Homo sapiens: one gene and its partners. The protein of the gene in region 1 interacts with the protein of each later gene in a pairwise test. Each region holds a gene or a part of one and is shown on either strand. Other genes may lie near its edges.

The links.
Region 2: the proteins of MYCBP2 (region 1) and BTG3 interact in a two-hybrid assay, tested with the Homo sapiens proteins (one large-scale study listed by BioGRID and IntAct).
Region 3: the proteins of MYCBP2 (region 1) and HUNK interact in a two-hybrid assay, tested with the Homo sapiens proteins (one large-scale study listed by BioGRID and IntAct).

The regions. Positions count from the first base shown.
Region 1 is NC_000013.11:77,316,991-77,320,643, forward strand, and holds part of MYCBP2 (E3 ubiquitin-protein ligase MYCBP2), read right to left. Parts: intron 1-3,653. UniProt on the Homo sapiens protein: Atypical E3 ubiquitin-protein ligase which specifically mediates ubiquitination of threonine and serine residues on target proteins, instead of ubiquitinating lysine residues.
Region 2 is NC_000021.9:17,602,887-17,606,539, forward strand, and holds part of BTG3 (protein BTG3), read right to left. Parts: intron 2,112-3,653; coding exon 1,974-2,111; intron 1,391-1,973; coding exon of another isoform or gene 1,259-1,390; intron 1-1,258. UniProt on the Homo sapiens protein: Overexpression impairs serum-induced cell cycle progression from the G0/G1 to S phase.
Region 3 is NC_000021.9:31,918,005-31,921,657, forward strand, and holds part of HUNK (hormonally up-regulated neu tumor-associated kinase), read left to right. Parts: intron 1-3,653.

The DNA of each region.
Region 1 (3,653 bases):
CCAGGCTGGAGTGCAGTGGCGCAATCTCGGCTCACTGCAACCTCCACATCCCAGGTTCAAGCAGTTCTCCTGACTCAGCCTCCCAATTAGCTGGGATTACAAGCACGCGCCAACATGCCCGGCTAATTGTTTTGTATTTGTAGTACAAACAGGGTCTCACCATGTTGGCTGAGCTGGTTTCGAACTCCTGACTTCACGTGATCCACTCATCTCGGCCTCCCAAAGTGCTGGGATTACAGGCGTGAGCCATCGTGCCCAGCCTGGTGACTTCTTTATTTAGAAAAGGAGCCCCAAATCCTAGTGGCAGCTGTACTTTAAAGTATAACAGGATTCTCATAGCGCCCTCTGTTGGAAATGTTTCTCTTCTGAGAACCAGGATCTTTTAACCCCTTGCCATCAGAGCTATGGAGATGGGAAGCAGAAACTGCCCAGGTGATTCACAGAGTGATGCTATGCGGAGCCACTCCTAATTTCATGTGATCTTCCTACTGGGAACACTGGAGAATGGGCGCCTCACCCTTGCAGGGCATCATGCCCAAGCTGCAGGATCTCATCATCAGCTGTGCCATCAAAGGACTGTTTTACTGCTCTATCAAGTCATCAGCTTCTGGACGGTGTGGTGCAAGATGGGACAAATGATTCTCCTATTCTATAAAAGTGGGTCCCGGCCGGGCGCGGTGGCTCACGCCTGTAATCCCAGCACTTTGGGAGGCTGACGTGGCCGGATCACGAGGTCAGGAGTTCGAGACCATCCTGGTCCACATGGTGAAACCCCGTCTCTACTAAAAACACAAAAATTAGCTGGGCGTGGTGATGTGCACCTGTAGTCCCAGCAACTCAGGAGGCTGAGGTAGGAGAACTGCTTGAACCCGGGAGGCGGAGGTTGCAGTCAGCTGAGATCACGCCATTGCACTCCAGCTTGGGCAACAGAGCAAGACTCCGTCTCAAAACATAACATAACATAACATAACATAACATAACATAACATAACATAACATAACATAACATAACATAACAGTGGGTCCCTTATTCTGAAATGATCCCTGTAGTAGAGGATCAAACATCCTGCAAGCCCTCAAACAGTAGTCCTGGGTGAGACCCTGCTGGAAAGACAAATTCAGACCCAGAATATGTCTCAAATCCAATCAAAATGAATCATGGTCCTTTCCACTGTATAAGGACTGGTTGGCCTGCTTGAAGGATGATTGATCTCTGCTGCTGTCAGGCTGGATATTCAGCAGCAGCAGTTGCTAGATCAGCACTGGTGAATGAAAACCCTTTTATTGGGCCCATGCACAGCCATCATCGGTAATTTTTCCATGCACTCATAGGCCAAAAGAAATACCAAACAGTAGTGTTTATTAAGTAGTTAGATCCAAATAACAAGAATTCATGTCCTAACAAATGAGTAGACATTTGAAAAAATAACACATAAATTGGAAGAAAAATATTTTTATTTCCTTCTTAAAAACTACAAATACTGGGCCAGGCGCAGTGGCTCACGCCTGTAATCCCAGCACTTTGGGAGAACGAGGCAGGCGGATCACGAGGTGAGGAGTTCGAGACCAGCCTGACCAATATGGTGAAACCCCACCTCTAGTAAAAATACAAAAATCAGCCGAGTGTGGTGGGACACGCCTGTAATCCCAACTACTCAGGAGGCTGAGGCAGAAGAATCACTTGAACCTGGCAGGCGGAGGTTGCAGTGAGCCGAGATCGCACCACTGCACTCTGGCCTGGGTGACAGAGCGAGACTCTGCCTCAAAACAAACAAACAAACAAAAACTTCAATTACTTGATAATATGACATGTGTGCCTGTTAGACACAGAACAACTTCTCAAACTTGGAATCAGACTGAACATGCCACCCTCCTTTCCTGTTCCACACTGATTTTTGCACAGTGCTTGATCTGTATCACAACTAGTAAAAATCCAACCCTGCAAAAATATGACATCATCAAAAGAAATGTGGCATGAGCTAATGTCAAAACCGTGAACTACCTCAAGCTAGTAATTTGTGACAGATATTGCTGTGTTTCCTTTAAAATTCTGAAATATCCCATGGTATTCTTTTGTGTCTGTGGTGGTGCTTTGGGGTGCCTTGGTGCAGTTTGGGAACGTGTGTGTGTGTGTGTTTGTGTGTACAGTCCCTTCCTCCCTTCGCAGATCCAGCACCCCGAACTAGGTGTTCTTGTGACTTAACCCTAGTTGTTGGTTTGGTGATAGTCAGTAGGCGAGAGAGGAGGAGCTGGGGGTAAGAGGGACAGCACAGTCTGCAAGCAACCCCTCTAGCTAGTAGAAGAAGGCCACTTCTGCAGGCCCAGAGGGTTAAGAGGAATTTGGGGTTTCAGGGTTTTCAAGTGCACTCAGATGCCCCATCCTAAGGGTCAGGATTCCTGCCCAACCAGAACACTGACCTTAGCATAGCTGAGAGAGAATTCTACCTACCTTGGTGCTCTGCTACCCTTAAAATTAAGTTTTGGGTTGAAGCCTTAGATTTTTCCTCTTACTGTATATGTGTTTCTTTACATGATGCTAAATAAATTTCCTTTTACATTTTGCCCCCAATTATCTTCCACCTTGCATCATCTTTCTCCAATCTATCAATGTTATTTACCAAAAGCCATCTGATGATTGTCCTCATAATTAATTTCTCTGAACTTCTCAAAAGCCTAGTGCACTCACCAGTGCATTCCCTTCAACAGGAATAGCATTCCAACTCACCACCAGTGAAAGTTTTAAGTTGCATAGCTACAGTGCATGCCAAGCGTTATCAGTATTAGTGCTCCATCTAGCACCAGAATCGATTCTCATTGCCAGCCAGCCAGCCAATAATCCAGCTTCAAAACCTCACTGTAAAGTCTACTTTCTGAGACCACTCCTGGCACCAACTGCTTTGGGTAGGAGGGTTCCCAGGAAACAGACTCTCAAATGCAGATGTGCACACCGGAAGTTTATTGCGGAGTGCCCTCCGAACCAACAACTGTGGGGCAGTGAAAGACGTAAGACTGAACAGAGGAAGGAGTTGATCTGCAATGCAGTCCCAGGAAGCCCTCAGCCAGACCCATGGGAGAGCTCTCTGGTGTTGGGATAGACTTCAAGGTTGGCTTGTCTTATAGCAAAAGCGCTAGGCATTTATATCCCTACACTGTATAGATATTAGATGTAAACTGCCCCTGAAGAGGAGGCATGACTCTGGGGGAGGCAACTCTTGGCTCAGGGCAATGCGTGGAGTGGGACTCAGCTGCAATCAGTTTTAGCTGCCAATATTGCCAAGAGCTAGGGGAACATGTGCCTGAAAGCGGGATCTGAAAGCCTAACCACAGCACCTGCCACACCACCACTGGACTATTACACCAATTTGGCTAATGAGGGAAGAGAATTAAGCATTTATGCTGCTGGATTAGGAGAAACTACATTTCACTGACAGTCAGTGAAGGCCAACTCTTCTTTGCAGAAGAGTACCAGCTAATAAACATAGAAGAAATAACAGAATTATTTTTTAATTCATCATTTTGCAACCCCTAATGAAATTATTGACTCAGACAAGGATTATCAAAGAATGCTAAAAGCATTAGGTAAAAGGCATTCACAATGTGCTCAAATTTTTACCCTGTGATTACTTGTTCTTTACAAATGGAAAAAGCATACAT
Region 2 (3,653 bases), on another chromosome or scaffold:
CATCCTTGGACATAAAAACTTTCCCCTGATGGTTTAGGATCATTATATTGAACGTAAACTATTTGATTGTGTGATAACATAATCGTGCTGATTTTTTAGCTTTTTCATTTTTGCCTCTATGTCAGACCACATGACATTTTTTGGTAGCGTCTGACTCATCAACCCTCTTTAAAATGCTGCTTCTCACATTTCATGGGTTAAGAAACCACACAACTAACTTAACTGTGTGTTAAATAGGAGCCAACTAGGATCTAAGTGCAGGTCAAATTAAAAAGTAAACAATTCAATATAGTAGCTTTTTGACAGCTATTTCTTATAAATGGAGGTCTTCTGCACAGGTTCAGTGGCCAAAGTTTTCCAAGTCTGAAACTAGCCTAAAGCAGGTCCTTAATTAGTCCCAGAATCTAAAAATGTTTATTTTCTCAGACCTAAATTTGAGATAGCTTGCTCCTTTTCTACCCGAGAAAGAAGTATTGGAGAATGTTTATCACAAACCTCTACCACCTACATCTGGTTTCCAAAAGCAATAAACTTACACCAACCACTGGCAAATCAGGTAGTAACCTCAAGCGGTGGTCCTGACAAAATTTAATGGAAGAATAATCATGTAATTCATCTCTCCTGTCTTCACCTCCACCTTCATTGCTGGAATCAGGTCAGTCTGCGACCACCTTAGGAGTACATAGTTAGGGTTCCTTCAAAAAGCAACTTTACTACAATCAATAAAGAGGCCAGGTGGTCAGGTGAATTGTACCTCAAAACCAAATAGAAACATCCTAAAGGCAGAGCCACAGGAAAATTCTTGCAGGAATTCCATGCCTCTGTTCATCTTCTTCCTGCTAGTTAGAACATCCTTCCCACCTTGTCACCTGGTCAACCATGGCTCATCCTTCACCTCCCAGCTCAAGTATCACCTACTCAGTAGTCTCCTGACTCCTCACCAGATGCAGTAACTTTCTACTTTGTGCAACCTACCACTGCATTTTGTACACATTTCTAACATAAATCAGATAACAATGTAATTTGCTTACTTTTCTTCTCAATTTCAAACTGAATTACCTAAAAGCAGAATGTTGCTTTCGTTTTTGAAAACCCTACAACTGAGAGTGCCTGGTCCACAAATAATGGTTTTTGAGCAAGTGGAGTTCAAAAAGATTTCATACCTAGCACTGATCTTTCACAACTCTATTCATTAGGAGATGTGAAAAATAACTTCCATTATAAAAATAAAACCACGAAGTATCACTCAGTCACTTACATAATCAAAAAGGAGGAGGCCGGGCGCAGTGGCTCACGCCTGTAATCCAGCGCTTTGGGAGGCCAAGGCGGGCGGATCACGAGGTCAGGAGTTTGAGAGCAGTCTGGCCAACATGGTGAAACCCCATCTCTACTACAAATATAAAAAAAAATTAGCCGGGCACAGTGGTGGGCGCCTGTAATTCCAGCTACTCAGGAGGCTGAGGCAGGAGAATCACTTGAACCCGGCAGGCAGAGGTTGCAGACAGCCAAGAATGCACCATTGCGCTCCAGCCTGGGCAACAAGAGTGAAACTCCGTCCCAAAAAAAAAGAGGAGAGAGGGAGAATAAACAGAAACAGAAACAAACCAAAAGTGGTTATCCAGTATTATTTGGGATTAGCTTCTTAATTTGAAGACAGACAAGTGCACCACCAATTAAAGATAATAGACACCTAGCGGAATCTAGGTGTCTACTTCTTGGTCTACAATAAGCTTCTTGGCAAAGCACTACTAGAAAACCCCCGCCTAATCAGTTTCTTTTTTCGGCTATAAAGCAGAAATCTAACTAGTCCTTCAACATCACCTCCAGAAAAGTATTTCATAAAATTTACATCTGAGAGAGTTAAACCACCAGCTCCTGGCCATAAAGATACACAGGCAGGCCGTACATGACAGAATGTCATAAAATTAGTTCCAGCATGGTCATCAGTTCAGCCTCTAAACTTGAGAACTCACCGACAGCACACCTCACATGGGTCCACCCAGAGAGTGAGCTCCTTTGGCAAGCCCAGGTCACTATACAAGATGCAGCTGTTTTCACAGGCTTTCAGGACATCAGGATCAACTCTCTGAAATTTATTGACACGAATACATCTACAACAAAGTGGAGTTACGTTAATGGATTTAAATGAATTTAATCATAAACGCCGTAATATCTATTCATACTTGCCAAGGTGAGTAATAAAATAGTAATAAAAAAATACCCTGGTAGAGAACCTAGGAGCATATCTATCCTAAACAGATAATAAATGTGAACTACAGGCACAGAGGCAGCCTGAAAAAAAGATGGCACCTATGTGAGCCCAAGGAAATCACTAGTACTGGGTCTACCTCAGTCTACCCAGAGACTTGACCACCCATGTACATTAAATGAGCACGGAGTATGAAAGTTGCACGAAATTTTAGAACTCTGAAGGTAAAAGTTTCTATAGGCCAAGTTCCTATACAAAAAAATCTCTAACAAAAGGCCTCATCTAATGTTTCAGATGGTATTTGGAAATGCTTACGACAAATTCTGATCTGTCATTAACTTGCTTTTATATCTCAGATAGTAAAGTGGTAAGAGGACACCCTTGCTTTACCTATAATTGTTCTATAAATACAGGATAAGTGAAGGACACAGATTCATTCATATCATATACTTATGATTAAAATACCTAACTAACATGTTATTGGCTTATTTCATTTAACTTCTATTTACCCAAGCACTTTTATTTAAATAGTTGTCAAAATTAAGTGAGGAAAATTTCTAAACCAATAAAGCCTCTGTCCCATCTTTTTTTAACCTATTATACGACATCTACCTAATGGAATGTTTAATAAATAAAAAATATGCATTCTGTTAAATGATAAGCATTCTGATTAAGTAGGGAAATAGGGCCTATGAAGGAAAAGTATTTACTGCCTACAATCAAGAATCAATCAAGAGAACTTGGATTTCAGCACTAATCCTAGTATTTATCAGGTAAGCCTAGTTAAGTCACTGTACCTCTTCCTCAGACCTGTAACTATAAAACATGGAAATACAAGTTAATTGATGAATAGTAATTACGCTGTAAAATACAATGATATAAAGACTAATGTGCTATTTAAAGTTTTTGTAAAAGTTAAATTATTAGTTGGTTTTAATTTCTATTTAAAAAATGAAAAAGTTCTCAACAGGTAATAGGAATAAGTGTTTCTACATAATAATATTAACAATAATAAGCATTTTAAAAAATTTATTATGCAATGGACAATTTCCTAAATGCTTTGCATGTATTAACTCTTAATTCTCATGATCATCCTGTGAGTTAGATACTTTTTTCCTCAGCATAAAGAAAAAAGGAGGCAGAGAGAGTTTGAGTAACTTCCCAACATTACACAGCTACTAAGTGATGGATCTAGGGTTCAAATCCAGGCCACTAGACTCCAAAGAGCAAGTTATTTCCTTAATACTCAACCCTGTATATACGTACCTATCTTAGCGTCACCATTAACAATATAACAAAGGCAAAGTGAGAAAAATTATTTTCTAGTATGTAAAATACTGCTTAGTCCTTTTAAAAACATGGTCTTATGCTATAGATTCTAATATTGTATAGGGTAATTTGAAAGATCCCATGTGCTCTGGGACCAAAAGCAGTTAAGGATAAA
Region 3 (3,653 bases), on another chromosome or scaffold:
ACCCAGTTAGAGTCAGTGTTAGCTTTGTTTTGCCTGCAAACCTCTGATTACTGTCAAATTGAATTAGATGTCTCCCTTTGCTGATCACTGATTGACTTTTCCTTAATTTCCCATTCATTTTTTTTCCCCATTTCAGTTGTTATAGATGAAGTCGATTAAATGGTTTTGTGTAATCAAGAACGGCATTCCATTTCAGTATTATCAACTTGTAAGTATGGAGCTTGTAAGTCAGGGGGTGGATGAAAACAAGCTGATAATGAGCTGGTATTTGAAAATTGAGAGGGAGCTTAATAGGAAACCTTCTCCAAGGTGAGGTAGCTTAAGGGCTCAGGGTTTTCATGGAGGGAACCTTGATGGCAGAACTTGGGAATCAAGGTGTCAGATGATGGTAGGGCACACACCAGGGGTGTTAGTTTCCTGCAGCTGCTGTAACAAATGACCACAAACTTGGTGGCTTAAAACAACAGAAAGTGATTCCCTCACAGTCTGGAGGCTGGAAGTCCAAAATCAGTCTCATTGGAGATCAAGGTGTCAGTAGGGCCACGCTTCCTCCAGAGACCTAAGGGGAGACTTGGACTTTGCTTCTTCTCCCAGCCCCTGGTGGCTGCCATGGGCATCTCCTGGGCTTGTGGCCATGTTATTCTCTTGTCTCCGTCTTCACTTTGCTTTCTTCTCTGCTTGTCCATCTGATCCCCTCCGTCTTTTAAAGACATTTTTGATGGCATTTAGGACTCACCCAGTTAATCCAGGACAGCCTCCCCATCTGAAGACCATTAACTTCATCATGTCTGCAGAGTCCCATCCCCCTAAAGATGACATTTTCAGGTTCCAGGGATTAGGATGTGGGCCTATCTTTGGGAGGCCATTTTTCGACTTACCACACTGGGCCTGCTTCACGGAAGGCCTTGGTACGACGGCCCAAGGCCTGGGCTGGACTGAGTGGTATGAGGTTGAGGGGCTGGACTGAGCGGTATGAGGAGGAGGGGCTGGACTGAGCGGTATGAGGAGGAGGGGCTGGACTGAGCGGTATGAGGAGGAGGGGCTGGACTGAGCGGTATGAGGATGAGGGGCTGGACTGAGCGGTATGAGGAGGAGGGGCTGGACTGAGCGGTATGAGGATGAGGGGCTGGACTGAGCGGTATGAGGAGGAGGGGCTGGACTGAGCGGTATGAGGTTGAGGGGCTGGACTGAGCGGTATGAGGAGGAGGGGCTGGAATGAGTGGTATGAGGATGAGGGGCTGGATGGGGTTTCCAGGGGGTATTTCCCCAGCACCATAGATCACCTCATTGCCTTGTCCTTTCACCTTCAGGAAAGGGAGGAGGATGGGCTAGAGAAAGAGCAAGAAGTGAGAGAGTGGGGAGAAATGCTTGGAAATACTGCATTTGCACAGAAGTTGGAAGGTACAGGAAGAACTGCCTAAAGAAAAGCCTAGCATGCACCCTTAAGCCTGGCATGTGGGAACCAACACCAATTGTTAGGATGACTGTAATCGTACGGCTGTGATAATGAGGTCTAGATTCATGGAAAGAGCCACCTGGGCTGTCCTTTCTGTTCAGAGTGGTCTGCAGTGTAGACACTTGCTAACCAATTGTGGAGCTTCATAGGGTCCTATTTTGACATAGCTCATGGAGGTGCAAAACCCTGATATGGGCTGGTTCAGCCCTGGGAGTGGAGCCTGAGAGGGAGTTCGTGAAGACTCTGCTCTCCGTGGGTCTCATGGACGTGCGGGAGCAGAGGGGACGGTGGAGTCAATGAGGAATTGTCAGAGGCTCCTGAGACTACGCTGAAGGGCTAGAGTGAGGAGGAGAGAGAGGCTGCCGGTGAAAGGTGGCGTCATTCCCCACTGCCAAGGAGGGTCTCTCCATGCCTGGAAATGCGTCCCAAAGGGCATCAGATAGATTCCTTATATTTTCAGGGAAGCTATTTGTTCCTTGTGGCTGCTATAACAAATTACCACTCTGGTGGCTTAAAGTAACAAATTGATTCTCTCACAGTTCTGGAGGCCAGAAGTCTTAAAAAGTATTGGCAGGGCCACGCTCCCTCCAGAGACTCTAGGGGAGGATCCTTCCCTGCCTCTTCTGGCTTCCAGTGGCAGCCAACATTCCTTGGCTTGTCGCCCCTCACCCCAATGTCTGCCTCCTTCCTCCTGTGGCTGCCCCCTCTGCTTATTTGTGTGAAAACTCCTTCTTTCTCTATTTTATAAGGACACTTATGAGGACATTTAGGGCCTACCCAGGTAATCTAGGCTAATCTCATCTCAGAATTCTTCACTTAATAACTTCTGCAAAGACCCTTTTTCCAAATAAAGTCACATGATCCAGAGATTAGGCCATTATTCAACCTGGTACAGGCAATTGAAGAACTCAATAAGGTATCTTAACTATAATTGTGTACTCTGTTAAAAAGGCAGATTGTATTACTGCTGGGCCTTTAGACTTGTTTGTTTACAGTACTTGTAAGAATTTCATTGCCAGAGGGTGTAATTTTTTAGATACTGCCACACGGAGTGGAGCAAAGACAATGCCTAATTGTACTTTTCAGCATTCTTTTTTCTCCACCTCCCCAAGAGGATGGATATGAAATATGTGTGTGTCTATGTGTTTTTGGAGGGTAACAGTTAACAAAGCTGTTAGTTTAGCATCCCTTGAACTACTTGGGGCCAGACACAGCCAGAGTGTAACTTTACCTCCTGGGGGCTGAGAGCATCAGCCCGAGCTGACTTGAGGTAGTGCAGGCCCCATGCTGTGAGGTGTGGATGGCAGGGGCTCTTCTAGCCTGTCTGGTCCCCTTGGGGGCTGATTGACTCTTTGTTACTCCCATCTTTGGATTAAGGGCCTGAACCTCCCTATTAAAATGAGACTCTGGGCTGGGCACGGTGGCTCATTCCTATAATCCCCGCACTTGGGGAGGCCAAGGTGGGCGGATCACTTGAGGCCAGGAGTTTGAGACTAGCCTGGCCAACATGGCCAAACCCTGTCTCTACTAAAAATACAAAAATTAGCTGGATGTGGTGGCGGGTGCCTGTAATCCCAGCTACTCAGGAGGCTGAGGCAGGAGAATTGCTTGAACCCGGGAGGCAGAGGTTGCAGGGAGCCGCCAAGATTGTGCCACTGCATTCCAGCCTGGGCCACAGAGCGAGATTCCATCTCAAAAAAAAAAAAAAAAAAAAAAAAAAAAGAAGGAGACACTGCTCTATAGAGGAGATAATACATTATGCTGTTTATAGCCATCTTTGCTTTGGTGATTCCATTGGTTAGTCACTATTAGTCACTTGCTGTTTATGAAGCGCTGTGTGTCGTGAAGGGGGAGTGGTCCCTGCATTAAGCCATGACTTACATCTTACTGCAGATGCTGTTGTATAGGGACGTAGGGAAGGAAGGTGCGGGGGAGTCTCTCTGGTAGGGAGGTTAGCCTCTGAAGGACCTGGGGTTGGGGGCTTGAGTGGGGGAAGGGGGTGGCTGGAGTACCTGGAGAGTGATAGAATGCATGTCCCAGGGAGTGACAAGACATGCCAGGAGGGAGAGCTGGGAGGAGTTGGGACCGGGTGGTGGTGGGGCTGATGGAGAAGATGCTTGGGTGCTCCCATAGGCAGCAGTGAGACCTCAAGAGCTTCTGCAAGAAATCAGAGTTCTAGACCCACTGATTTGGAGGC